Linked DNA regions of Homo sapiens. The protein of the gene in region 5 purifies or fractionates together with the protein of the main gene of each other region. This does not show direct contact. Each region holds a gene or a part of one and is shown on either strand. Other genes may lie near its edges. The genes, in order: ITGA7, TMTC3, UGT8, SCARB1, NCEH1, ITPRIP and CANT1.

Region 1 (3,500 bases), on a different chromosome or scaffold from region 5:
GGAGATCTCCATTTGAGGGCAAGGAAGTGGGTGCAGACAGGTTGCTGGGTTATGCATGGACCTGTGTAACACTGGCAGGGTAATGGTGCTTGAGTGGTGCCGGCATAGGGGTGTGTGTGTATGTGTGCATGTGCATGTGCATGTGAGCACACATGTATCAGTATCTGCCAAATCTCTGCATATGGGCAGCATGCCTCAAGCAGGTCCCTGGCCCACAGAGTGAAATGATCCCCATCCCTTCCTCCCCCAGACCTGTGCACACCGATATGAGGCAAGGCAGCGAGTGGACCAGATCCTGGAGACGCGGGATATGATTGGTCGCTGCTTTGTGCTCAGCCAGGACCTGGCCATCCGGGATGAGTTGGATGGTGGGGAATGGAAGTTCTGTGAGGGACGCCCCCAAGGCCATGAACAATTTGGGTTCTGCCAGCAGGGCACAGCTGCCGCCTTCTCCCCTGATAGCCACTACCTCCTCTTTGGGGCCCCAGGAACCTATAATTGGAAGGGTGAGTCACTCCTCGGGAAGGGGAGAAGGGGACCAAAACCTCCTCTTACCTCAGAGACAGGGTTGGGGATGGCACATGGCCAAGCATGACCACATGTGCACTGCTGTATGGCCCCAGGGCACTGCCATGCCTTCCACCCCATTGAGCTAGTGCACACATGAATGGGGGGTGCCTCCTTTCCCTCGCACGGCCAAGTGTTCCTCAACATGCTGGCATGGGCCCCAAGTGCACGCTGGGCCTGCAGCTGGGGCCTGCATGCTCCAACACACTAGCCCACACCTCATCACTGCCATTCCCGTCTCCGCACGCTGCTGCTGGCTGAGCTGACACTCGGTGAGTGTGATGCCACATCTGGGGGACCCCAGGAAGCCTGGGTTGGGGACAGGGTGGGGAGAGGGCTAGAAAGAAGAGGCAGGGCTTCCCCGTGTGCCTGTCTAACTCAGTGTCCGGCCTGAGGGGTGTTCCTTGCGCCCTGCCCTGGGCACTAACAGGTCTGTCCTTGCAGGCACGGCCAGGGTGGAGCTCTGTGCACAGGGCTCAGCGGACCTGGCACACCTGGACGACGGTCCCTACGAGGCGGGGGGAGAGAAGGAGCAGGACCCCCGCCTCATCCCGGTCCCTGCCAACAGCTACTTTGGTAGGGACCTCTCCCCGGCCCAGAACTGCTCTAACCCTCTGCTCCTCTCTCTTGTCCTCTCTCTCCATGCTCCCATCCTTCTGTCTCTGTTTCTGTCTCTCACCTTGTCTCTCTCTGTCTTTCTGTCTCTGGCTGTGATCTCTCTGGTCTCTTTTTCTCTCTCCACCTCTTCTTCTTCCACCATTTTCTGGCCTTTCTGTGGCTCTGTCTCCCTACTCTGTGGCCCCTACTCTGGATGTCCCCTCCCTGGTGTCTCACCCCACCCCCCACAGGGTTGCTTTTTGTGACCAACATTGATAGCTCAGACCCCGACCAGCTGGTGTATAAAACTTTGGACCCTGCTGACCGGCTCCCAGGACCAGCCGGAGACTTGGCCCTCAATAGCTACTTAGGTTTGTAAGCTCCCACCTCCTGGACTCTAGGGGCATGGCCCAGCCTCCCCTCCTTCCCCAGGGAACTCGACCTTTGGTGCCTTATAATCTCCTCCTCCCCCAACACACACCCAGGGAGACATACATTGGGCCCAAATTGCAGAGAAGAGCTGGGTCCAATGATCAGGCCTAAGAGGAGGAGGCCCCCAGGGTGGTGGCCTCTGGGGCTGTGAGCCAGGGGTCTCCATGGAGGAAGATTCAGGTGGAATGAGAGGGCCAGGGCTGAGGATATTTTGGGAAGGACAGTCCTGTCTTCTAGGGGGACTTTCCCTGAGGGGATGGATGGTGGGCACATATTGAAGAAAGGGCTAATGTTGTTGGTAAGTCCCTCTCGTTGTCTCATCTGCATTCCTCTGCAGAGGAGGAGGAAACCAGGCCTGGGAGATGTTTGGGTGAAGCAGGCGCTCTCTCACTCCCCCTTGTCTCCCCCTCATCCATGTGAAGACTTCCCCTCCCTGCCAGGATGAGGGAGTTGGGGGAAAGAGGTGCACTGGGTGGGATTCGGGCCTGAGAGGGACCTCTAGCTCTTCTAGCTCCCTGGGTGTGGGCAGGGTGAGGCCACTGTGCTCAGCCTCCTACCTGGGCTCCTGGCCTTCTCAGCCATCACCTTTCTCTCTCTTGCCCAGTCCCTGAGGCTGACCTCACTGCACTTTTTGTGCCAAGCTTGTCTCTGGGCCTGGTGGGTGTGGGAGGCTGCCAGGCCCTGTGGGGAGGAAGAGCTATCCAGCTGTGGTGCTGATGACTTGGGGGGACCTATCTTTTGGCTCTTAACCTAGGGGAGGGGGCAGGGTGCAGGGGAGCTGTGACTTGGCTCTTAACCTGTAGGGAGGGGGCAGGGGCTGGGGGAGCTGTGACACACCCCAGCTTCTGAGTCTTGGGGTGAAGACTTAGGGGTAAGTCACCCTTCCCCCAGGCTTCTCTATTGACTCGGGGAAAGGTCTGGTGCGTGCAGAAGAGCTGAGCTTTGTGGCTGGAGCCCCCCGCGCCAACCACAAGGGTGCTGTGGTCATCCTGCGCAAGGACAGCGCCAGTCGCCTGGTGCCCGAGGTTATGCTGTCTGGGGAGCGCCTGACCTCCGGCTTTGGCTACTCACTGGCTGTGGCTGACCTCAACAGTGATGGGTGAGTGGGTAGAGGGCCGTGCCACCTGAGGGAGGCTGGGTCTAGTAGCCCCAGTCTGGCTGAGGCCACTTAGCCTCCTGCTGGCTCCTCTGGCCAGGGAGGACCCACACTGAATGTTTCCCTCTCTCCATAGCTGGCCAGACCTGATAGTGGGTGCCCCCTACTTCTTTGAGCGCCAAGAAGAGCTGGGGGGTGCTGTGTATGTGTACTTGAACCAGGGGGGTCACTGGGCTGGGATCTCCCCTCTCCGGCTCTGCGGCTCCCCTGACTCCATGTTCGGGATCAGCCTGGCTGTCCTGGGGGACCTCAACCAAGATGGCTTTCCAGGTGTGACGGGGAACTGGAAAGGCTCAGGGAGGGAGGGGCCACAGGAGGGATGGGGAAGCCCCTCAGAGGTCAGGGTGTGGTCTTCTGAGGACTCAGGGAGAGAGGGTCCCTGAGCTTATGTCTGAGCTGTACCATTTACCAGCTTTCTGACCTTGGCAAGTTCCTAACCTTTTTGCGTTAGTAATATCTGCAGGGAGTGGCCAAGAGGATTAAAGATGATGTATGTAGAGTGCCTGGGATTTTGTAGCCTCTCAATAAAATAGAAAACATACCTGAGTGACTGGGGGGAGTTGAGGCCTGGATCTTGTCTGCAAGGCCCCCAGCCAGCGTGACTGCCTTTTCCCTGTGCCCTGCAGATATTGCAGTGGGTGCCCCCTTTGATGGTGATGGGAAAGTCTTCATCTACCATGGGAGCAGCCTGGGGGTTGTCGCCAAACCTTCACAGGTGAGGGGAGTCGCTGGGATGAGGGAATGGGTG
Region 2 (3,500 bases), on a different chromosome or scaffold from region 5:
TTAGGAATGTTTCGAGGACAAAAACATACCATTAAATATAGGGCTATAAAATTAGGATTTAGGAAACATGTATCTTCTTTTTTTTGAGACAGGGTCTCACTATGTCACTCAGGCTGGAGGGCAGTGCTGTGTCCACAGGTCACTGTAACCTCAAACTCCTGGGCTCAAGCAATCCTCCCACCTTGGCTTCCCGAGTAGCTGGGACTACAGGCATGTGCCATCATTTCTTGCTGATTTTAAAATTTTTTGTGGAGACAGAGTTTTACTATGTTGCCTAGGCTATTCTCAAACTCTTGGCCTCTAGTGATCCTCCCCACCCTGGCCTCCCTAAGTGTTAGGATTACAGGCATCAGCCACTGCCTGGCAGGAAACAAATCTCCATTGAGATAATTTCTATTGCAAAAAAAAAGCCAAAAAAACAAAAAAGTTCAAGTTCTACAATTACAAACCTTATAGTACAATCTTGTGTCGAATAATGAGCATCCTTCATGATTATCAAGGTAGAAAACCTTACAAAAATATTAGCTTTTCTCCAAATTTCTACTTTTTTGGACACCAGGCATAAAGACTTCTCTCTATTCTTTTATTTGGCAGCACGATGGATAAAGAAAATTTGAAAATAAATCAGGAGGCTTCAGTTCTTGTCTTGGGTTACCTATTTAGCCATATGACTTTGGGGCAGTCATAAAATCTATTTGGTTTTCACTCTACTAAATAGAAGACTGGCAAATGCAAACTCAAAGGTCCTCTTTAGCTCTAAAATACTACGACTTTATGATTCTTTCATATTTTACAAAAGTTTTACGAAATGTATCTAAGAAATAACTAAACATTATAATAGATTTTTCTAATTTATAAATTAAAAAGATTATAAATCATATACACTATCTTATGAGGCAGAACTGAAATTCCTATATAAAATATGGATGAAGGATCCAGATTTACTGTGGTTAATAATTTAGTTTTGCTAAATTATAGGAAATATAAAAAATTACAACATCTCAGAAAACGTAGTAAAACTGGATATAAAATGGTGCCAAAAGTATTTGCTCTTATGAATCAAAAGAAAATAAAATGCTATTTTTTTGAAAACATATGCTCTTGGCTCCTCACAGCCAATTATGTAAAAAATTTCACAAGTTCATATTATTTGGAGAGTTTATATATAAGTTACATTATGTTTATGTATATAAAATGACAAAATAGTTAATGTTGCTTAATAGACTGCCTGAAAAATTAGTCTTAACACATGCCAGAAGAATTAAAAATCAGTATTATCATATGTTAGAATGCATGTTACTTGAAAATAGTTTACTTCAAGTATTTTAAATATTCTTTCTATAAATCAGTTAAGCACAGTATTGCTATAAACTGTCAATACATAAAGTGTTTGCTATGGGTAATAAAGTTAAATTAAGGTCTTATTATATTATAAACTACAATTTATATAAACAGAAATATTTTGAGAAAACATACCTGATTCTTGCATTACTATAGCAGAGTTGAATAATGCTAGTTTATGCTTTGGATTTAGTTCCAGAGCACGATTAAAGTTTTTTAGGGCTTCATTTGGTTCTTTAAGTTCAATATGTACAATTGCCAAGTTGTACCAAAGATCTGCATTATTTCTGTCCAGCTCTAGTGCTTTAAGATATGCTTCCTTTGCTTTAAGAGGTTTATTCATTTTTAAAAGCAATTCTCCTCTGTGGAAAAATCAAACACAAGCTTTACTTACAACATTACCATCTCAGTTTGTAGATACAATTTTTGCCAAGTTTTAAGCCTTTCCACATACAGCTTTTTTTTCTCTTAACTCAGACTCTTAAAAAACTCTCTTTCGAAAACAACTCTTTGAAACTGTCCTCAAATCTGAACTCCTTAGTTCAGTATATTTGGCTTGATATATTTTCAAATATTATTTAAGAAGAAAAAAATTATGCCTGATTTCAGAGGGCAACCTATCAGGAGGAATCCAGGAAGGAGGACAGAGCAAATATATTCTTTGACTTTATCTTAAAAAGGAGACAGACTAAACTGCATCAGAAAAAGGGCAGCTAGCCAGAGTGAAAGATTAATGAATTTGTCAGGTGACAAAATAACAGCATTAGAAGAAAAAAATGACATATAGTAGTGGTAAGAGAAATTCCAATATTTGAATGTATAATAGAAGGCTCACTATGCAAAAAACCAAAATATTAAAAATCTGTAACCCCTTCTTATATTAATTTAGTCCTCATCAATGTCTTCTTATAATACGACCATTCTTAAAAAAAAAAAAGAAAAAAAAAAAAAGAAAAATGCTGGGCATGGTGGCTCGTTCCTGTAATCCCAGCACTTTGGGAGGCTGAGGTGGGCAGATCACTTGAGGTCAGGAGTTGGAGACCAGCTGACCAACATGGCAAAACTCTGTCTCTACTAAAAATACAGAAATTTGCCAGGCATGGTGGCACGCGCCTGTAGTCCCAGCTAATAGTGAGGCTGAGGAACAAGAATTACTTGAACCCAGGAGGCAGAGGTAGCAGTTAGCCGAGATCACACCACTGCACTCCAGCCTGGGTAACAATGTGAGACTCTGTCACAAACAAACAAACAAACAGAAAAAGGACTAAAAAAAAGCTGAACAGGTAGAGTGGGAGGGATTAATCTGACCTGTAGATAACTTTGAGGAACACACTTAGAATTGAGGACCAGTTAAGAAACCATTGTATAAATCTTTCTAGTGTGGTTCTATTTTCTGTTAGAAAATTTTAAAAAGTAATTTTGCTTAAAGAATTATTTTTACATATGTACAAATAATATTTAAGTAGTGATATGAGAGTTGTTCTTATAATACTACTCTTTCCTATAGTATCAGCACAGAAATAAAAGGAACAACAATTAATATTCTCATTAAAACCACTTCTAGAATGAATGTTTGTCCAAAATATTATTTTTTTAATGTAGAGATTGTTGAATAGTTCTTTATGAATTAATACATGACAGGTGTTATTTATAGATACAACCCTGCTAATAAACTCAATAGGCACGGCGGAACAAAGAAAACCCCAACTTACAAACAGATTTTATCTCAAAAACTTAAATTCAGAATGTACTTTCCCCAAAGGAAAAAATGTTACAAATTACTATTAGTTTTCTGGACCAGGCTACAAAACGAAGTTTAAAAACACATTTTTCCTCAAAAGTAATACAAATGATAACACATACATGAGAAAATAAATGAAGTTTTAACATGTGGTGCCAGAAAACTTTTTTTTTTGCTGAGAACCAAGATGTTTTCTTTGTGTCAAAGGCATCAATAACCAATCAACTCTAAAAACAAGAAAGTTCCTGAGAGTTTGATATTAGAAGTAACTATTATAAAATGTAAGTTTCAAGTTTTAATTTAAATAGGAAAAGAACAATTTTGGTGATGGGAAGAAAATGCAACTAAGACAGAGCTGCTTCTACCCTTTCCTTAATACAAAACCTAAGTTGGCTATTACAAGTTAGGGATTCCCCTT
Region 3 (3,500 bases), on a different chromosome or scaffold from region 5:
AAGGTTTCAATTAACATTAAAGCTGATGAACTTACATACCACAGTATATTGTCAGTAGCCAATTATTTTCAATAGATTGTCAATAAATTATCAAATTATGGAAATATCCTTTAGATTCCTGTGATAATGCTTTGTGCATGTTTTCTATTATTTAGAAAATGAAAACAGCAGTCATTTGACCAGCCATGTTATGACACCAGATAATATTCTGCAAGGATCTTCCAAACAGGGAGAAACTGCAATGGGAACAATCTTTGGATATCTACATTGTGTCAAATGTTATGTGCTTTATTTCATTTTCATACTTATAACAGCTGTATATCACAGTTTTTATTATCCACATTATAGAGGCAAGGCACTTGATATTCATGGAACTTGAGTAATTTGGCTTACACAGCAATTGTAGTTGAAATTAGAAGCCAGGACTGTCTGATTCCCAAGACAGTGTTCTTTGTACTGCATGGTAAGCCTGGTGTTGCTGGGTTTCCCTAGCACTGAGTATTGCAGAAATACGGAGATTTATTTACTCAGGTGAATGATGAAGCAGAATCTTTATTTTGCTTTTTAAATTATTGATGGGTCCTGAGTTAAGCTAGTTCACCAATGAGTCTCAAAGGGTGAAGAACTGGCCTGTGTAGTTTTAAAACAAAGCAGCAGTTTTCTTCATTTGTAGATATTATATTTAATTTACCTTGCATTTCCAATAGCATTAAATATTAGAAGCGTATAAGCTTTTTCTTTTTATGCCTAGGGGATATGGCTTAACACTGAGAAACACTTGAGAAACACTGCCACATTCTAAGGAACAACCAATAATAAGAAAAATTATTTCATATAAAAGGATGCAGCTTGCATATAAAATGCTGAATTCAACTGAAGTTCATTATGCTGCCTTTATGTGAGCTCAGGGGTGACCTTCATGCTCTGGACTCTTAAAGGATCCAGTGTCGGATACAGCTCTGCCATTGGAGCAATGTGTTCCATAACTAGGGTTGCCTAAGTATATCCCTTCTTCTGTTATCTATAGTTTTTCTTTAAAGGTGTGCTTTTCAAAACATGATGTTATTTCATATACATATATATATATATATATATATATATGCACACATACATATACATCATGCATGTATCATATATGTGTGTGTATGTATGTATCTATCTTCAATCTTTCAGGAAAGTTTGTAAAATATAGCCCTAAGTAGAATTATGGGGAAACAGTTGCAGAACTGCTGAAATTGGCTCAGATGAAAAGGAAAGAGCAAAAATCTAGGTTATTCACAGGAAGTTAGTCCAGCTGTGTTTTGCGAGGCATGAACCAGGCTGAATCAGAGCAAGAACAGGTTGCAATCTTAGGTCACATGGCAATTAAATTCCAGCTATAGAATATTGAAGACATGTAAGTGCTTAATTTAAGGATTATTCAATGCAGTGAATAAATTTATATCATTCCCAAAAGTATGCACATCAGATAATGAGTTAACTGCATGTAACTTGAAAACCTTAAATATTTAACTGAAAGGATTTTGTGCATAGAAAGATGTCTTAGTCAATGTAAAAATGCCAGTGATTTGTGTAGCATGTCCTTTGCTAAAAGTCATTATATAAACTGAAGTCACTTATCTTTGTTTCCAATGTGATAATATTCCACATTTAACAGGTGATAATTATTGAAAATATTAGTTTGCCTCACTAATATTGTGTCCGAGATATTCTAGTTTAAACCAAGTAACTAATACTGTAAAAGAAGTATTCCTTTTATGAAGCCAGCATTATCCTGATACTAGAACTGGGAAGAGACACACACAAAAAAGAAAACTTCAGGCCAATATCGCTGATGAACATCAATGTGAAAATCTTCAATAAAATACTGGCAAACCGAATCCAGCAGCATGAGGCGGGTGGATCACAAGGTCAGGAGATCGAGACCATCCTGGCTAACATGGTGAAACCCCATCTCTACTAAAAATACAAAAAATTAGCCGGGCATGGTGATGGGCACCTGTAGTCCCAGCTACTGGGGAGGCTGAGGCAGGAGAATGGCGTGAACCTGGGAGGCGGAACTTACAGTGAGCCGAGATTGCACCACTGCACTCCAGCCTGGGTGACAGAGCAAGACTCTGTCTCAAAAAAAAAAAAAAAAAAAAAAAAAGCTTATCCACTATGATCAAGTTGGTTTCATCCCTGGGATGCAAGGCTGGTTCAACATATGTAAATCTATAAGGTAATCTATCACATAAACAGAACCAAAGACAAAAAAACACATGATTATCTCAATAGATGCAGAAAAGCCTTTGATAAAATTCAGTATCCCTTCATGTAAAAAACTCTTAATAAACTAGGTATTGATGGAACATATCTCAAAACAATAAGAGGTATTTATGACAAACCTACAGCCAGTATCATACTGAATGGGCAAAGGCTGGAAGCATTCCCTTTGGAAACCAGCACAAGACAAGGATGCCCTCTCTCACCACTCCTATTCAACATAGTATTGCAAGTTCTGGCCAGGGCAGTCAGGCAAGAGAAAGAAATAAAGGGTATTCAAATAGGAAGAGAGGAAGTCAAATTGTCTCTGTTTGCAGATGACATGGTTTTATATTTAGAAAACCGCATTGTCTCAGCCCCAAAATTGAACTGAAAGGAACTTCAGCAAAGTCTCAGGATACAAAATCACTGTGCAAAAATCGCAAGCATTCTTTTACACCAACAATAGGCAAGCAGAGAGCCAAATCGTGAATGAAGTCCCATTCAGCAATCACTACAAATAGAATAAAATACCTAGGAATACAGCTATCGGGATGTGAAGGACCTCTTCAAGGAGAACTACAAACCACTGCTCAAGGAAATGAGAGGACACAAACAAATTGAAAACATTCCATCCTCATGGATAGGAAAAATGAATATTGTGAAAATGGCTATACTGCCCAAAGTAATTTATAGATTGAATGCTATTCCCATCAAACTACCATTTACATTATTCACAGAATTAGAGAATACTATTTTAAATTTCATATGGAATCAAAGAAGACCCCCTATAGCCAAGACAATCCTAAGCAAAAACAACCAACCAAAAACAAAAAAACAAAGCTGGAGGCATTACGCTACCTGACTTCAAACTATACTACAAGATTGCAGTAACTAAAATAGCATGGTACTGGTACCAAAACAGACATATAGACCAATGGAGCAGAACAGAGACCTCAGAAATTACACCACACATCTACAACCATCTGATCTTCTACAAACCTGCCAAAAACAAGCAATGGGGAAAGGATCTCCTATTCAGTAAATGGTGCTGAGAAAACTGGCTAGCCATATGCAGAAAACTGAAACTGGACCCCTTCCTTACACTTTATACAAAAATTAACTCAAGATGGATTAAAGACTTAAATGTAAAACTCCAAACCATAAAAACCCTAGAAGAAAACCTAAGCAATACCATTCAGGACATAGGCATGGGCAAAGACTTCATGACTAAAACACCAAAAGCAGTTGCAACA
Region 4 (3,500 bases), on a different chromosome or scaffold from region 5:
AGAGACGATGGCCGTGTTGGGTGGGGGAGAGCAGAACGAGGCCGGGTGGGCGGCGACACCATGTCCTGCAGTGGGCAGGCGGCGGGAGGGACAGACTTGGCGAAGGGGCCGAGCTCAGCTTTGGCTGTGGGGCCGGAGGTGTGCACAGACGTCCAGGGCCCCTGGTTCCCAGGCAGGCATTGCAGGCGAGTAGAAGGGAAACGTCCCATGCAGCGGGGCGGGGCGTCTGACCCACTGGCTTCCCCCACAGGGAGTTCAGGCACAAAAGCAACATCACCTTCAACAACAACGACACCGTGTCCTTCCTCGAGTACCGCACCTTCCAGTTCCAGCCCTCCAAGTCCCACGGCTCGGAGAGCGACTACATCGTCATGCCCAACATCCTGGTCTTGGTGAGGCTGCCCTGTGGCCCACGCCGCCTCGCACCCTGACCTCGTCCCCTGTCTCTCCTCCCGCCTGCCCCTTGTGCAGAGAGCAGTCCCTGAGGTGGTCGGAGCGTGGGGACTCACGCCTGGTGGGTGGCTTTCGGCCCTGTGCTGTCTCCACCACCCCCAGTGGGTTCTGAGTTTCCCAGGTGGGTCCACCTGTCTTGGTTTGGAAGTCCTGGCCAAAGTACTTTTTTTTCCCTTTTCAATTTACATTTCTGAGATCTCCAAAAGGGGCTGTCTTGTTGAGGGCTGAGCCACAGGCCCGCCTCTGGGACTGGGGCTGGAGTTCACTTAGCCTGAGTCCAGTGGGGTGCAAGGGGGAGAAGGGGTTCTCGGGAGCACATGTGGCCTTGGCACTGGAGGAGCAGAGGGTGGTTCTGGTGTCCCAGATGCCCCACGTGGCCACTCCAGGGGCCTCCTGCACCCCAGCATTTCCCTTCATGGGCTCTTTGCTGTGAGGCCCAGCTGGGGCCAAGGGAGGATGGGCCAGCCACGTCCAGCCTCTGACACTAGTGTCCCTTCGCCTTGCAGGGTGCGGCGGTGATGATGGAGAATAAGCCCATGACCCTGAAGCTCATCATGACCTTGGCATTCACCACCCTCGGCGAACGTGCCTTCATGAACCGCACTGTGGGTGAGATCATGTGGGGCTACAAGGACCCCCTTGTGAATCTCATCAACAAGTACTTTCCAGGCATGTTCCCCTTCAAGGACAAGTTCGGATTATTTGCTGAGGTACGTGTGGCCTGGTGAGAAGCCAAAGATTCAGGCCTGTGTCCTGTCTTCCCCTCACACAGCCTGGACACTGGTCACCAGCTTGCTTTGTAGCTGGCTGGGGATCTAGTGGCTGTGGGTTGTAAGTGACTGAGAACCTGACTCAAACCGGCTTGAGTGAAATGGGGAATGTTGGGGCTCATAGAACTGAAAATGCTAGGGTTGGATTCAGGTACAGCTTGATCCAGGCTCAAATGATGTGACTGGGCCTTAGCTTAGCAAATTGGAGGCTTTGCTGGAGGAAGGGGGCATGGCTGCTGGGGAGTAATATCACAAGCTGACTCTTAATCTTGACTCTTGGCAACCTGGTAGGGTCACTGACTGGGCTTCGGAGCCAACATCTCGTCCATGGAGGGTCTGACCCTGACCTTGGCTCCCTCACCGCAGGTTTCACTGAGTCCTTGGGACTGCTCCAGCCTCAGCCATCTCTTTGGTCTCTGCTGATCAGGGTAGAGTGCTGGGGGGGATATCGTGGTGCTGCGTGTGATAGATACTCAGTACGTTTTTGTCAAGGGTGACGGGCTCCTGTCGTGTGGGTAAATGAGCAAGTTTGGGCTAAGTGGCATGATGCTGTAAAGGCATCTTGTAAATCCTGAAGTGCTTTGCAAATGAAAGTTATTACAAAGTCCCTAGTTTAGTATAATCTACGTTTGACTGCATATAATGAAAACCTCACAAGAAAAGTCTAGCGGTAGGCTGTTCAGTGTTGGTGTGGTGGCTTCATGGTCTTAAGTGATCTGGAAGCCTTCTACTACTGTGCTCTGCCATCCTTGGCATGTGGTTTTCATCCTCAAGATAACCTCATTGTCCAAGTTGGCTGCTAGAGTGTCAGCAATCACATCACATTCCAGGCAGCACAGCAAGAAGGAAAAAATGGTGGGGCTTTGGGGAGCAGATGGAGGAACTGGGGGTAAAACAGCGTGTTCCAGTTTCCTCCCTCTTAGGGAGGAAGAAAACCAATGTCCACTTCCTTTCTATTGGCCAGAACTGAGTCACATGGCCACACCTAGCTCCAGGGGAAGCTGGAAAGGTAGCCTTTTAGCTGGGTGTGCTGATGCTCTGAGTATGGTTTGGGTTTTGTATGAAAGAGTAAGGAGAGATTGGGCTTTGGGTAGTAACTGGCAGTTTCTGATGCTCTCCGTCCATTATAATGATCATTTAAGTATCCTATTGGGTGAGCATTTATTAATAATAACAATAATAATGAAAATAAAGACTATCATTTTGAGCTCTTACTGTGTCCGGTGCACTGTACCTGGCCGTTTTTGCACATGAGTCCCTTTAATGCTCCCCTTTGTAGTGGCTCTGGTTATTCTTGGCTCCACATGGGCACGTGACAGACACACCCGGGATGCTGGGCTGGGGCCTTGTGCTGGGTCCTGCTCTGGAGGTCTGTGATGGGTGCAGTCACTCAGCCGGGCAACCTTGGAGCTCCTCAGTGTGCTCCACCCTGCAAAGCACTTCTAGATATTTCCTTCAGTCACTCATACCACTTTGTGCTTTGCATGTCTTTGGGATTAGAAACCAGCTTCTGGGAAATGCTCTCGGAGCACCAAAGCCTGGGCCCCACTATCAAGAACCTCGATGGGTTAGGACAGGCCAGGTTTTGCTGCTGTGACAAGCAGCCCCGGAATCTCCATGGCTTAGAACAACCAAGACTTATTCCTTTGCTTGCACTCCACGTCCAGTGTGGGTGACTGGGGCACCCGCGCTTGTGGTGGTCACTTGGGGATCCAGGCTGAGGGAGGCTCTGTCTTGACACATACCTCCTTGGCTGCTATAGCAGCGGCAGAGAGCCCGGTGAAAGGCGTGTGCACAGTCCTTAAAGCATCCCCCCAAGTGACATGCCACTTCTCCTTTTTCATTGCTCAGGGAGCTGACCTGGCCATGCTTTATTTTATGCTGGAGTAGGGTGTGGTGGGGGTGATCTGCCATTTACCTGGGAGGAAAGCCAGACTCTCCTGGAGTTAGGAAGGGAGGGTGGAACACTGCAGCCACAGAACCCGGGACCATTCCTCCTAGAAAGCTCCCAAGCCTCCTCTCGGTCCCCAGACACTGGGCATTTGGCAGTGAACCAGATGCTGGGGGCCCTGTCCTTCTGGTGGAGGGGGAGGAGGGCTCAGCCCAGAATGTTCAGACCAGGCCGGCTCAATGGCAGGCCTAAGCCTTACGATGCTGTTCCCTGCTGTGTCTGTAGCTCAACAACTCCGACTCTGGGCTCTTCACGGTGTTCACGGGGGTCCAGAACATCAGCAGGATCCACCTCGTGGACAAGTGGAACGGGCTGAGCAAGGTGAG
Region 5 (3,500 bases):
GATTCCACAGACCTATCTGGGAGTTTTTGTACCCCAGGGTTCTTTTTTCATTGGCTCCCAGATATTTATCTATACAGCCCTCATTTCCTCTGCAACACTTTCTCTTCCCCTCTTCTACCATCTAGCCTGGGAAATCACTTTCTATTCTAGGAGACTTCTTATTCGTCATGTAATCTTCTAAATCAATGCCTATTTTTTAAAAGATTCTCGGCCGGGCGCGGTGGCTCATGCCTGTAATCCCAGCATTTTGGGAGGCGGAGGTGGGTGGATCACTTGAGGCCAGGAGTTCGAAAACAGCCTTGCCAATGTGGCAAAACCCTGTCTCTACTAAAACTACAAAATGTAGCCAGGAGTGGTGGTGCATGCCTGTAATCTCAGCTACTTGGGAGGCTAAGGCACGAGAATAGCTTGAATCTGGGAGGCGGAGGTTTCAGTGAGCCGAGATCACACCACTGCATTCCAGCCTGGGTAACAGAGCGAGACTCTACCTCAAAAAAAAAAAAAGATTCTCCAAAAGATACAGGCTTTTAAAAATCCAAAGGAAGGAAGGAACTCCCGTTTCTTTGCTTTTTTTTCTCATAGCCCTTCAAAGAAGTAACAACTATAGAAAGGTGTGGCTACTGAATTTATTTTCTGGGCAGTATGGTAGGAGGAGAGTAATGTGAAGAGCTAAGGGAAAGATATTTGAGTAAAAAAAAAGTTAGGTAATATTCATGAGTTTGTCATTGATATCATATAGACATGCAAATGTTATCGCATACTGGATAGGGCTCAGAGCAGCTTCCAGGACCCACACTGATTTACACCAGCATTTCTAGGCAATTCTGTAAGTCCTGCAGCCCCTCAAGGTTTTAGAAATCCAGCTTCTGTACTGGCTCCTTAATGTCTAAGCTTCTGTTCTCTTCTCTCTGTAAGCAAGATAATAGTACCTACCTCACAGAATAGTAGCCAGAATTCAGCAACCTACCCTAGCACTCACTGTAGGCACTCAGGCAGTGATAGCTATTATTTATAATAGTACCAAGAAAAGTAATTAACAACAGGTTACTGTTCATATCAATTTTCAAGTTTTCAAACAGTCTTGATATTGGCTCTAGTATAACTCTAATTTATCAATACAATTGTGAACATTAGCACAGTTTTTCTTGTAGCAGTTCTCTAAATTCTTTTTCTACTCATCTACCTACCCTTTCATATTCCTGTCTTTTACCCTGCATAAACAAATTGTCCCTTTTTTTTTTTTTTTTTTTTTTTTCGAGGCAGAGTCTCGCTCTGTCATCCAGGCTGGATTGCAGTGGCACAGTCTCGGCTGACTGCAACATCTGCCTCCCGGGTTCAAGCGATTCGCTTACCTCAGCCTCCTGAGTAGCTGGGATTACAGGCATGTGCCACCATGCCTGGCTATTTTTTTTTTTTTTTGAGACGGAGTCTCACTCTGTCGCCCAGGCTGGAGTGCAGTGGCGTAGTCTCAGCTCACTGCAAGCTCTGCCTCCAGGGTTCATGCCATTCTCCTGCCTCAGCCTCCCAAGTAGCTGGGACTACAGGCGCCCGCCACCATGCCCGGCTGATTTTTTTTTTTTGTATTTTTAGTAGAGACAGGGTTTCACCATGTTAGCCAGGATGGTCTCGATCTCCTGACCTCATGATCCGCCCATCTTGGCCTCCCAAAGTGCTGGGATTACAGGCGTGAGCCACCGCACCCGGTCCCAGCTAATTTTTATATTTTTAGTAGAGATGGGGTCTCACCATGTTGGCCAGGCTGGTCTCTAGCTCCTGACCTCAGATGATCTGCCTGCCTTGGCCTCCCAAAGTGCTGAGATTATAGGCATGAGCCACTGCACTCAGCCAAATTGTCCCTTTTCTAATCAGCACTTCTACCCCCACACCACTGTGTTGCTATTGTAAACAATGCAGATGGTTGTTCAAGTATTCTGTGAATGCAAGCGAAACATAAGCTAACATGGAGAGATGTTTCTGGAAAGGTGTGAACAAATTGAGTCAAACCCGCATGTACTCAGAGCATGCATTACATAAAGGAAACTCGAGGTGGGCTCTCTTATAAAATGTACAGTCTTCTCATATCTGTCATATAAAGACAATTCACTTGTTTTACAGCTTCATATAGTTAAAGAAACTCATGTAATTTGTCTCAAGTGTTTAAGAAAGTCTTCATTTAATTAAAAAGAAAAGTACAGTTCATAATATAACAGAGCCAGGTCTGCCATTTCTTTGTTCATATTTCATCGTTTCGTGCCAGTCAAACTACCTGTCCTGTGACAAGTGGAATGGAGCTTGCATGTTCCCTATTAATTGATAATGGTGTTAACAAGGGTTTATTATATCTACTCTAGAAACTTTGGAAATACAGTGATTCTTAGCTATTCCCTGGCAGATCTCAATATTCTCTAAATTAGACTAACATTTTACCACAAAACTCGAATGGTAATTGCCTTCTTCCAATTTACCAAAGAACTTAAGTTGATAGTTAGAATCCTCTGTGCAGTACATGTGTGAACACATATGTGCATGTACACATGCATAAATTAGTATCAAAGACATGAACAGTTTCAACTTGTTCAGTAAATTGGGCAGTTGATGTCAGGGCACATGTAGAAGTTGAATTTTCTTAATATTCATTTGCTCTGCTGCTGCTTATACTTGCCAGCGAATAATATTAAAGGAATTCCTAAAATAGCTGTTCATTGTTTGATTAACTGCCTCTTGTTCTTGTTTTTCATTAACATTTGCTAATGCTGTTATAATATAGTGCTTTCTAACTCTTTTCATGACAGGACAGGACATATATATATGTGTGTGTGTATATATATATATGTATGTATATATAAAATATACACACACAGTTATAATGTTTATATGGGACACTGGGGTAAAGGGCTCAGGAATTTGCCCAGAGGCTGAGGCGATGAGCACACACGGACCCTCTTCAAGGTGTACCGTCGTACGCTGTGCACAGCCTGAGAAGCTGTAAGGTGCCACATCGCAGACATCATATAGTCCTGATTTCTGCTAGCAACATTGTTTCCGTGATCTTATGATCATTAATCACCAGTGTTCTGTTTCATCATCTACAAAAGAGCACTGTTACTCTCCAGCTGTTCCCCTTCCTGATGAACTTGCGAAAGTGGAGAGAAGGATATAAACTCAGAAGTGTCTTTGCTTGGTGGGTAAATTAGGTCTCCTTGCTATGTTCCTTCTGCAACCAAATAACTTTCTGCGAACACTTAATGCAGAGCTTGATACCCTGAGGGTTCAGAAGGGAAGAGACCATCAGGCAGTATGGTCTTTGCCTCATTTCTAAAAAGCTTCTGGTTATATCTGAGCTGAGCTGCTTCTAAATGCCAGGGCCTCCCTTGACAATGTTTCTTTTTTCTCACACGCTCCTTTCAAAAGGACAAGACACATTTAAAGATACAATTAAATATATTGAAGTTACAAAGCAATTTAAAGAAATTAAGCAATAAGACACACCCAAATATATG
Region 6 (3,500 bases), on a different chromosome or scaffold from region 5:
TGAATAAACCACTGGTCCCAGCCAGCCACCTGCAGCCCTCTGTCCGGGCCACCCAGAAGCTTCCATCTTCCCTCAGCCCCTGTTGCCCCGTGACTCCAGCGTTGCCAGGCTAAGTTTAGCTGTGAACTGCATGGGCCGCCCCTCTCTGTGGACAAGGGCAGAGGTGGAGAGGAATTCAGCAGGCTTCCTGGCAAGCAGACAGAAAAAAGCCCGCCAAGTGACCCAGGTTTATTCTCAAAGCCAAACCCACCAGCTGATGTCTCAGACCACAGGTGCGGGAGAGCCTGGTAGAGGTGAGAACTTTGGGCCAAGGCAGAGGTGGACATCCTTGGAATTGGGAGTAGGGGACTCTTTGGGGAGGCATGTGCTGGTATGTGCAAGAACATGCACACATATACACATATCCATGGTTTGTGAGAGGCTCCTCACTACCCGTCCTGTCTCAGAATGTCAGAATGCCCTGTTTCCTTCCCTTTTGTGGACAAGTCAACTCTATACAATATTTGAAGGGATTTATTCTGAACCCATCTGAATGACCAAGGCCTGAGGCACAGTCCCAAGAGATCCTGAAAATATGTGCCCCAGACAGTTGGGTTACAGCTTGATGTTACACATTTTAGGGGGACAGAAGTTACAGGCAGGCCAGGTGCTCACACCTGTAATCCCAGCACTTGTGATCCCAGGCAGATCACTTGAGGTCAGGAGTTCGAGACCAGCCTGGCCAACATGGTGAAAACCTGTCTCTACTAGAAATATAAAAATTAGCCGGGCATGGTGGGGCATGCCTGTAGTCCCAGCTACTCAGGAGGCTGAGGCAGGAGAATTGCTTGAACCTGGGAGGCAGAGGTTGCAGTAAGCTGAGATCCCTCCACTGCACTCTAGCCCAGGCGACAGAGTGAGACTTAGTCTCAAAAAAAAAAAAAAAAAAAATTACAGGCAGACCTCCATCAATGCATGTGTAAGGAATATGTTAGTTTGGTGTGGAAAGATGGGACAACTTGAAGTGAGGGCAAGGAGTGGCTTCCTGGTCATAGGTGGATTCAAAGATTTTCTGACTGGCAATTGGTTGAACGAGTTAAGTTATTATCTAAAGACCTGGAATCAGTAGAAAGGAGTGTCTAGGATAAGGGGTATGGAGACCATGGTTCTTACTATGTAGCTGAAGTCCCAGGAAGCGAGTTTCAGAGACAGGAGATGGTAAGTGTCTGTCAAACCTAAAAAGGTGCCAGACCCTTAGTTCATCTCTCCTGGATCAGGAAGAGGCCTGGAAAGGGAAGGAAATTCTGTACAGAATGTAGATCAGACTCTTAGTTCATCTCTCCTGGATCAGGAGAGACCTGGAAAGGGAAGGAGATTCTGTACAGAATGTAGATTTTCCTGACAATAGGCAGCTTTGCAGGGCCATTTCAAAATATGTCAAAGAAATATATTTTGGGGTAAAATACTTTGATTTCTTTCAGGGCCTGCTATCTCATATGATGCTATATTGGGTTGAAATTCGGTATCTTATTGCTACAGAGTCTGTTTTGTCACTCCTAGGATCTCTGTTTTAACGTTAATGCTGTTCAGTTGTGCCTGAATTCCAGAGGGAGGAGGGTATAATGGGGTTTGTCGGCTCCTCCTTCCCATCATGGCATGAACTGGTTTTTAAGGTTTATTTTGGAATCCTCTTGGCCTGCAGGACATTCTTCTGACCCCTGGGGTCCCCAGGGCAGTGTTTCCTGTGACTGGGTTTGGGAAGGGGAAGTACCAGAGGCTTCAAACTGAACCCCATCTGGTGGGCCCTGAGCGACCACAGCCCTATTATCTGCCTCGGCCTGTCCTATCCCATAGGGTGCTGCAGACAGAGCCAGCCTGTGCAGAGTTTAACAGGGAGCCAAATGACAGCTGGGATCCGATCCGGGGAAGCGGGGAGATGGATTACGTGAGAAAGTGAGTCAGAGGGAACCCCTGACCTGCAGGAGGATCCCAGGCTCTGAAGCCTTCTCCCCTTTGCTGGGGGCCAGGGTGGACTCAGGGGTGTGCCAAGGAGGAGAAATAGCAGTGGAACATCTTGTGCTTTCAGAGCACTTTCGAGCGTGTGTTTACTCCCCATGCCTGGGGCTCAGGCAGGGCTGCTGTGCTCAGCAGGTGAGAAAGCAGAAGCCTGTAGATGCTGAGGAGAGGAGCCTGCCCTGTGCCAGGCACGGTGCTAAGCACCCAAGGTGTATGATCTCACTCACCCGTCCCAACATCCCTGTGAAGGAGGAAGTGTTATTAATTCCTCCTCACAGGGAAAGCGTGGGAGCGCAGAAGCTGTGCGATCCACCCACAGTCACTCAAGGTTAGAACACAGGTCTGCTGGGTCTACAGCCCAGGCCCCCTTTCCTTGCAGTCCTTCCCCAGGCTGGTGCCCTGTTTCCCTGGTGCTTCTGTTGAGTCTTGTCTGTAATCCTACAATTACCAGTGCTACTATGCACTGCCTACATCCTGCCAGAGTTCCTTGTAGGGGCGTCTGCGGCGCACTCCGCCCTGAACCCCAGCAGGCAGGGTCATCTGCGTATTTCCATCCCATCGCAGTTCCTTTCATAAGAAAACTTGCTCAGGAGCAAGCATGTTGCTGAGTGCTTTACATGCATTATCTTGTTCAAGCTTTATAACAGTAGATATGATTATTCTCATTTTACAGATGAAGAAACTGAGGTTCTGGGAAGTGATTTCTCCGAAGTCACCTCCAGTAGGTGCACATACTGGGTTCTGACCCAGTCTTGTCTCCTCTCGAGTCTATCCTCTTTTCCTCTTGCACACAGAGTTGGTCCCTTCAGTTGGTTTGGAGTTCTGAACCTTGCCTGTGCCAGTACAAGGAGGCTCTTACAGCTCCTCCTCCTCTGGCAGGAATGAGGATGTAGCAAGTAGCACCATGAAGTGTGGCGTAGACACAGGGATGGTTCCCAGCCATAGGGCTTGGCCGTGGCCCCACTCACCTGTTCGTGGCATCCTGCACTGAGTTGACAAGGAACCTGGGTAGGTGGTTGTCCGGGCTATTACTGTGACTGGTCAAGGCCCACTGTGTCCAAAGGTGGCTGCCTGTGATCCAGGCAGCTTGAAGGACCCTAAAACCCCCCAAATTATCTCCTAACTGGCTGCTGCCTGATATTCTGCTATGAGTACTCTCCACCTTTATGTTAACTTTCTCACCCATGTTAATCACCCAGCCTCGCAGTTAGTTATGCCTTGGACCCTCCCTGGCAAAACTTTCCGTTGATGTTTCTCTAATGTAGAAACCAGGCTGACCTGTTTCTGCCATTATCCAGCAAGCTGCTCCTTGGCTTGGGGAAGGAAAGCTGGCTCGCTGCCCCCTGCACTTTTTCCTTACCCCACCCACCTTGCAGTGTGACTTCTTCCACTTCATCCTGTCCCCGCTTTCCTCCTCCAGTGGAAACCTGTAAGTGCTTCAGTGCTCACCTCTGAGGCCCACACTGAGAATCCTCAGGGTGGAGGACGGACCTTCTCCACTCCCC
Region 7 (3,500 bases), on a different chromosome or scaffold from region 5:
AAGGGAAGGTGTTCTGGTGCTGAAGTTAAAGGAATTTTCTGGAAGGTACACAGAGTTCTCTTGTCACTAGAAGCAGTCCCTTGTTTAACCAAAGGTGGCTGAGGCCCTGGCGTCTCTGCCCCTCTGTTAGCTCTGGGGAATCAGCGTGACCTCGAGGTAACACTGACCACACGGGACTGTTCAAAGTCTGTCTCCCCAACTGTGCTGAGCTCCTGGAGGAAAGGCCCCTGCCTCCGTCACACTGATTCCCCAGAGGGGCAGAGACGCCGGGACTCAGACACCTCTGGTTCCATGTGGTCAGAGGACATGAGCCTCCCGGGTGGGGAGCGTGTGCCACGGTGTAGATGCCAGGAGTCTGGAATAGGAAGGCGTGCAGTGTTGCACAGCGACCTGGGAGAGGTCCTGCTCCTGGGAGTGCAGGGGGAAAAACCCACTGAGGCTTTCTCTGCAGGCTGAGACGTTTGTCCTTCAGATGGAAGGCATTGGGATCTACTAGACTTGGAATCCAGACTTGCTTTTTGGAAAAATTATTCTGTCAGTTTTGTGGAGGGTGATTTGAGATGGTCTTGACCAGGGATCTGTCGAGGGACAGGGAGTCAGTATTTTCAGCCTCCACAGTCTGTTGCGACCACTCAACGGTGCAGCCAGACTCAGCATGCCAGGGAGGAGTCCTAGCTGGCTTTAATCAGCCACATCTACACACCAGGACGTGACTACACAGCAGGCCGCGTCTACGCAGGCCGCGTCTACACACCAGGCAGAGTCTACACACCAAGCTGCAACCACATACCAGGCCACACAGGCCGCATCTACACACTAGGCGGGAGACTGCATTTGGCCCACGGGTGGTAGTTTGCAACCCTCCCAGCAGGCGAGAGGGTACTTGTAGAGTGAGTGAGAAGCAGTAGCAGTCAGCCCCTGTGCACAGTTCTCTAACCCCATCAGCATGGCTCCGGGAAGTAAACTGAGGCCAAGGGAAGTCCCTTGGCTGAGCCCAGATGGTCTATATCAGGGGTGTCCAATCTTTTGGCTTCCCTGGGCCACATTGGAAGAAGAATTGTCTTGGGCCACACATAAAATCCATTGATAGCTGATGAGCTTAACAAAAAATCTCATCTCATCATGTTTTAAGAAAGTTTACGAATTTGTGTTGGACCACATGTTGGACAAGCTTGGTCTAGATCATTAGACCAAGACTCTGAGAGTCATCAGGGTGAGATGGAACTGGAGCCGAGGCTGTGTGGATGGGGAGAAGGGAAGCGAGTCTCAAGCTGGGTGGGACACGTGGGGCTGGGGAGGGAGGAGGGTTAGGACGAATTGCTTCCTGGGATGGCTCCTGAGGGCCGGCACTGCCAGGACAGGGAGTTCCTGAGGAGGACCTGGTTTGCGGTGCCTGTGGGTATCGGATGAGGAGGCTCAGAGACTAGGTCAGGCTAGAAAGGCGTGGGGGTCTTCACCTTAGAGGGCAGGCCCTGGGAGAGGTCAGTGGGCTGCCAGCAGTGGGGGCCGAGAAGACCTGCCTGGGAGGAGGCCCACAGAGAGTGCCCCCCTGCCTCGAGGAGGGACACTGACAATGTGCTCACTGGGTTTGCCACTGGTGAAGGCTTCAGGTGGCTGCTTCTGAGGATTAGCCAGAGGGAAGGAGAGGGTGTAGGTGTGGGTGCTCTTGTACCATGGTGGGCGAGGGGGCCTGGGCGGGGGTGGGAAGGGACAGAGGTGCCGGGGACTCAGGGAAGGGTTTTCCTTCATTAACAGATTCGCCATTTATTCAGCAGCAGTTGAGTGTCTGTGGGAGTGTGGGGTCTGGAGGTAAAATGGTGACAAGGTGGGCGACTTGGGGCAGCCTGTGGATGGAAGGGAGGAACCAGAAGAGCAGGTGCCCGGCGGCTGGGGGGACTGACCTGAGTGGCAGGTGTGAGCCCCACCCAGGGGCCTCGGCTGCTGAAGTTGGCCACAGAGTGGTCTCCTGGGAGAAGTGGGCCGGAGATTTGACAGGAATGGTGAAGGTGAGGACAGTGGCTCTCCGGAGTGCTGAGGGAGTTGAACAGGGAAGAACATGGGGGTTCCAGGGGCTGGTGACGACGACACCTCACGATGTCTGACAGCAGTCTATGCAGGCACCGTTGTTCTGTGCTGGCAAGCACCGTCTTCCCGGGCCTGCAGCTCAGATGTGGCAGCTGAGCAGCTCGATCTTTGGGGTGCTTGATCCAGGTTGTGGGTTCATAATATGCCTAAGGTGGGGCCCCCGGTAGAGTGCAGAGGGGCTGTTGAAGAAGTGGCTAATGGCTCACCTGGCATCTCTTTCCCTTCAGCCAATGCGTGCAGACTGTCTGCTCCCTGCCTGGCAGTGCGTCAGGTGCTGGGGCTGTGACAGTGGCCAGATCCCTGCCCCAGGAGCAGAAATAATCACCTAGCCAGGCAGGGACGGTGGGAGAGCCGGAGCGGCATGGGAGGGAGGGCGAGTGGGCAAGTCTTCCCAGGGAGCTGATGCCCCGTAGGAGAGACCGAGCTGCTGGTGCGAAGAGCAGGCCCGACTGTTCCAGGCAGGGGGAACTGCAGGCTCTGCCAGGGCCAGTGTGGTCAGGGGACAGAAGGAGGTCTATGTAGCCAGCCGGCAGGCAGAGGAGATGGTACAGTGTGAGGGCTGAGCGGGAGCAGAGTGGGTTCACCCCAGGACCTGAGGAAGCCGCTGAAGCTGGGAGTGTGCCATCTGATGGATGCTACTTCATGGCAGGTGGCGAGGGAGTGTCAGGGGATGTTGGTGGGGGGCAGCTGGCAGGGCAACTTCATGGCGGGGGGTATGGGAGTGTCAGGGGCGGAGAGGCAGGAGGGGTGGAGGGAGGCAGCCGGCATGGCATGGTGAGGAAGGGCCATGGAAGAGGACAGAACCTGTCCACGGAGTCAATGCTGAGGAAGGAAGACGGAGGATGAGGCCAGTCAGGTTTTTCGTGGTGGCAGTGCCTTATGTTTTTATCGAAGTGTATATTCACACAGAAAAGCACATCTCCCAGGATCCTGAGAGAGCTTGAACCAGACCACTGTGGACACGGTGGCCACCCGTCACCACTACCCTTCCCAAGGGGAGACGAGGAGCAAGTAGGCTTGAGGGAAAAGCTGCACAGGACTCGTGTCTTGAAATGTCTAAGACGCATGTCAGAAATGCAGGTAAGGGGGGGTGCGGGTGCTCGCACCTGTGATCCCAGCACTTTGGGAGGCTGAGGCAGGAGGATCACTTGAGCCCAGGAGTTCAAGACTGGCCTGGACAATATAACGAGGCCTCATCTCTATAAAAAAAATTAAAAATTAGCTGTGCCCCAGGTGTGTTGGCTCACACCTGTAATCCTGGCACTTTGGGAGGCCAAGGCAGGTGGATCACCTGAGGTCAGGAGTTCAAGACCAGCCTGACCAACATGGAGAAACTGCATCTCTACTAAAAATACAAAATTAGACGGGCGTGGTGGTGCATGCCTGTAATCCCAGCTACTAGGGAATCTGAGGCA

What was found.
Region 1: the proteins of NCEH1 (region 5) and ITGA7 purify together in Homo sapiens (affinity purification with mass spectrometry; 2 studies listed by BioGRID and IntAct, with this or other methods). This does not show direct contact.
Region 2: the proteins of NCEH1 (region 5) and TMTC3 purify together in Homo sapiens (co-immunoprecipitation; 3 studies listed by BioGRID and IntAct, with this or other methods). This does not show direct contact.
Region 3: the proteins of NCEH1 (region 5) and UGT8 purify together in Homo sapiens (affinity purification with mass spectrometry; 2 studies listed by BioGRID and IntAct, with this or other methods). This does not show direct contact.
Region 4: the proteins of NCEH1 (region 5) and SCARB1 purify together in Homo sapiens (affinity purification with mass spectrometry; 2 studies listed by BioGRID and IntAct, with this or other methods). This does not show direct contact.
Region 6: the proteins of NCEH1 (region 5) and ITPRIP purify together in Homo sapiens (affinity purification with mass spectrometry; 2 studies listed by BioGRID and IntAct, with this or other methods). This does not show direct contact.
Region 7: the proteins of NCEH1 (region 5) and CANT1 purify together in Homo sapiens (affinity purification with mass spectrometry; 2 studies listed by BioGRID and IntAct, with this or other methods). This does not show direct contact.

The regions. Positions count from the first base shown.
Region 1 is NC_000012.12:55,697,905-55,701,404, reverse strand, and holds part of ITGA7 (integrin alpha-7 isoform 2 precursor), read left to right. Parts: coding exon of another isoform or gene 1-26; exon of another isoform or gene 27-55; coding exon of another isoform or gene 56-79; intron 80-250; coding exon 251-506; intron 507-518; exon of another isoform or gene 519-839; intron 840-1,011; coding exon of another isoform or gene 1,012-1,143; exon of another isoform or gene 1,144-1,378; coding exon of another isoform or gene 1,379-1,415; coding exon 1,416-1,535; intron 1,536-2,487; coding exon 2,488-2,695; intron 2,696-2,828; coding exon 2,829-3,022; intron 3,023-3,378; coding exon 3,379-3,467; intron 3,468-3,500. UniProt on the Homo sapiens protein: Integrin alpha-7/beta-1 is the primary laminin receptor on skeletal myoblasts and adult myofibers.
Region 2 is NC_000012.12:88,190,807-88,194,306, reverse strand, and holds part of TMTC3 (protein O-mannosyl-transferase TMTC3), read right to left. Parts: intron 1,704-3,500; coding exon 1,477-1,703; intron 1-1,476. UniProt on the Homo sapiens protein: Transfers mannosyl residues to the hydroxyl group of serine or threonine residues.
Region 3 is NC_000004.12:114,668,307-114,671,806, forward strand, and holds part of UGT8 (2-hydroxyacylsphingosine 1-beta-galactosyltransferase precursor), read left to right. Parts: intron 1-3,500. UniProt on the Homo sapiens protein: Catalyzes the transfer of galactose to ceramide, a key enzymatic step in the biosynthesis of galactocerebrosides, which are abundant sphingolipids of the myelin membrane of the central nervous system and peripheral nervous system.
Region 4 is NC_000012.12:124,811,865-124,815,364, reverse strand, and holds part of SCARB1 (scavenger receptor class B member 1), read left to right. Parts: intron 1-250; coding exon 251-392; intron 393-959; coding exon 960-1,163; intron 1,164-3,399; coding exon 3,400-3,495; intron 3,496-3,500. UniProt on the Homo sapiens protein: Receptor for different ligands such as phospholipids, cholesterol ester, lipoproteins, phosphatidylserine and apoptotic cells. Receptor for HDL, mediating selective uptake of cholesteryl ether and HDL-dependent cholesterol efflux.
Region 5 is NC_000003.12:172,648,568-172,652,067, reverse strand, and holds part of NCEH1 (neutral cholesterol ester hydrolase 1), read left to right. Parts: intron 1-3,500.
Region 6 is NC_000010.11:104,317,966-104,321,465, reverse strand, and holds part of ITPRIP (inositol 1,4,5-trisphosphate receptor-interacting protein precursor), read left to right. Parts: intron 1-3,500. UniProt on the Homo sapiens protein: Enhances Ca(2+)-mediated inhibition of inositol 1,4,5-triphosphate receptor (ITPR) Ca(2+) release.
Region 7 is NC_000017.11:78,999,765-79,003,264, reverse strand, and holds part of CANT1 (soluble calcium-activated nucleotidase 1), read left to right. Parts: intron 1-3,500.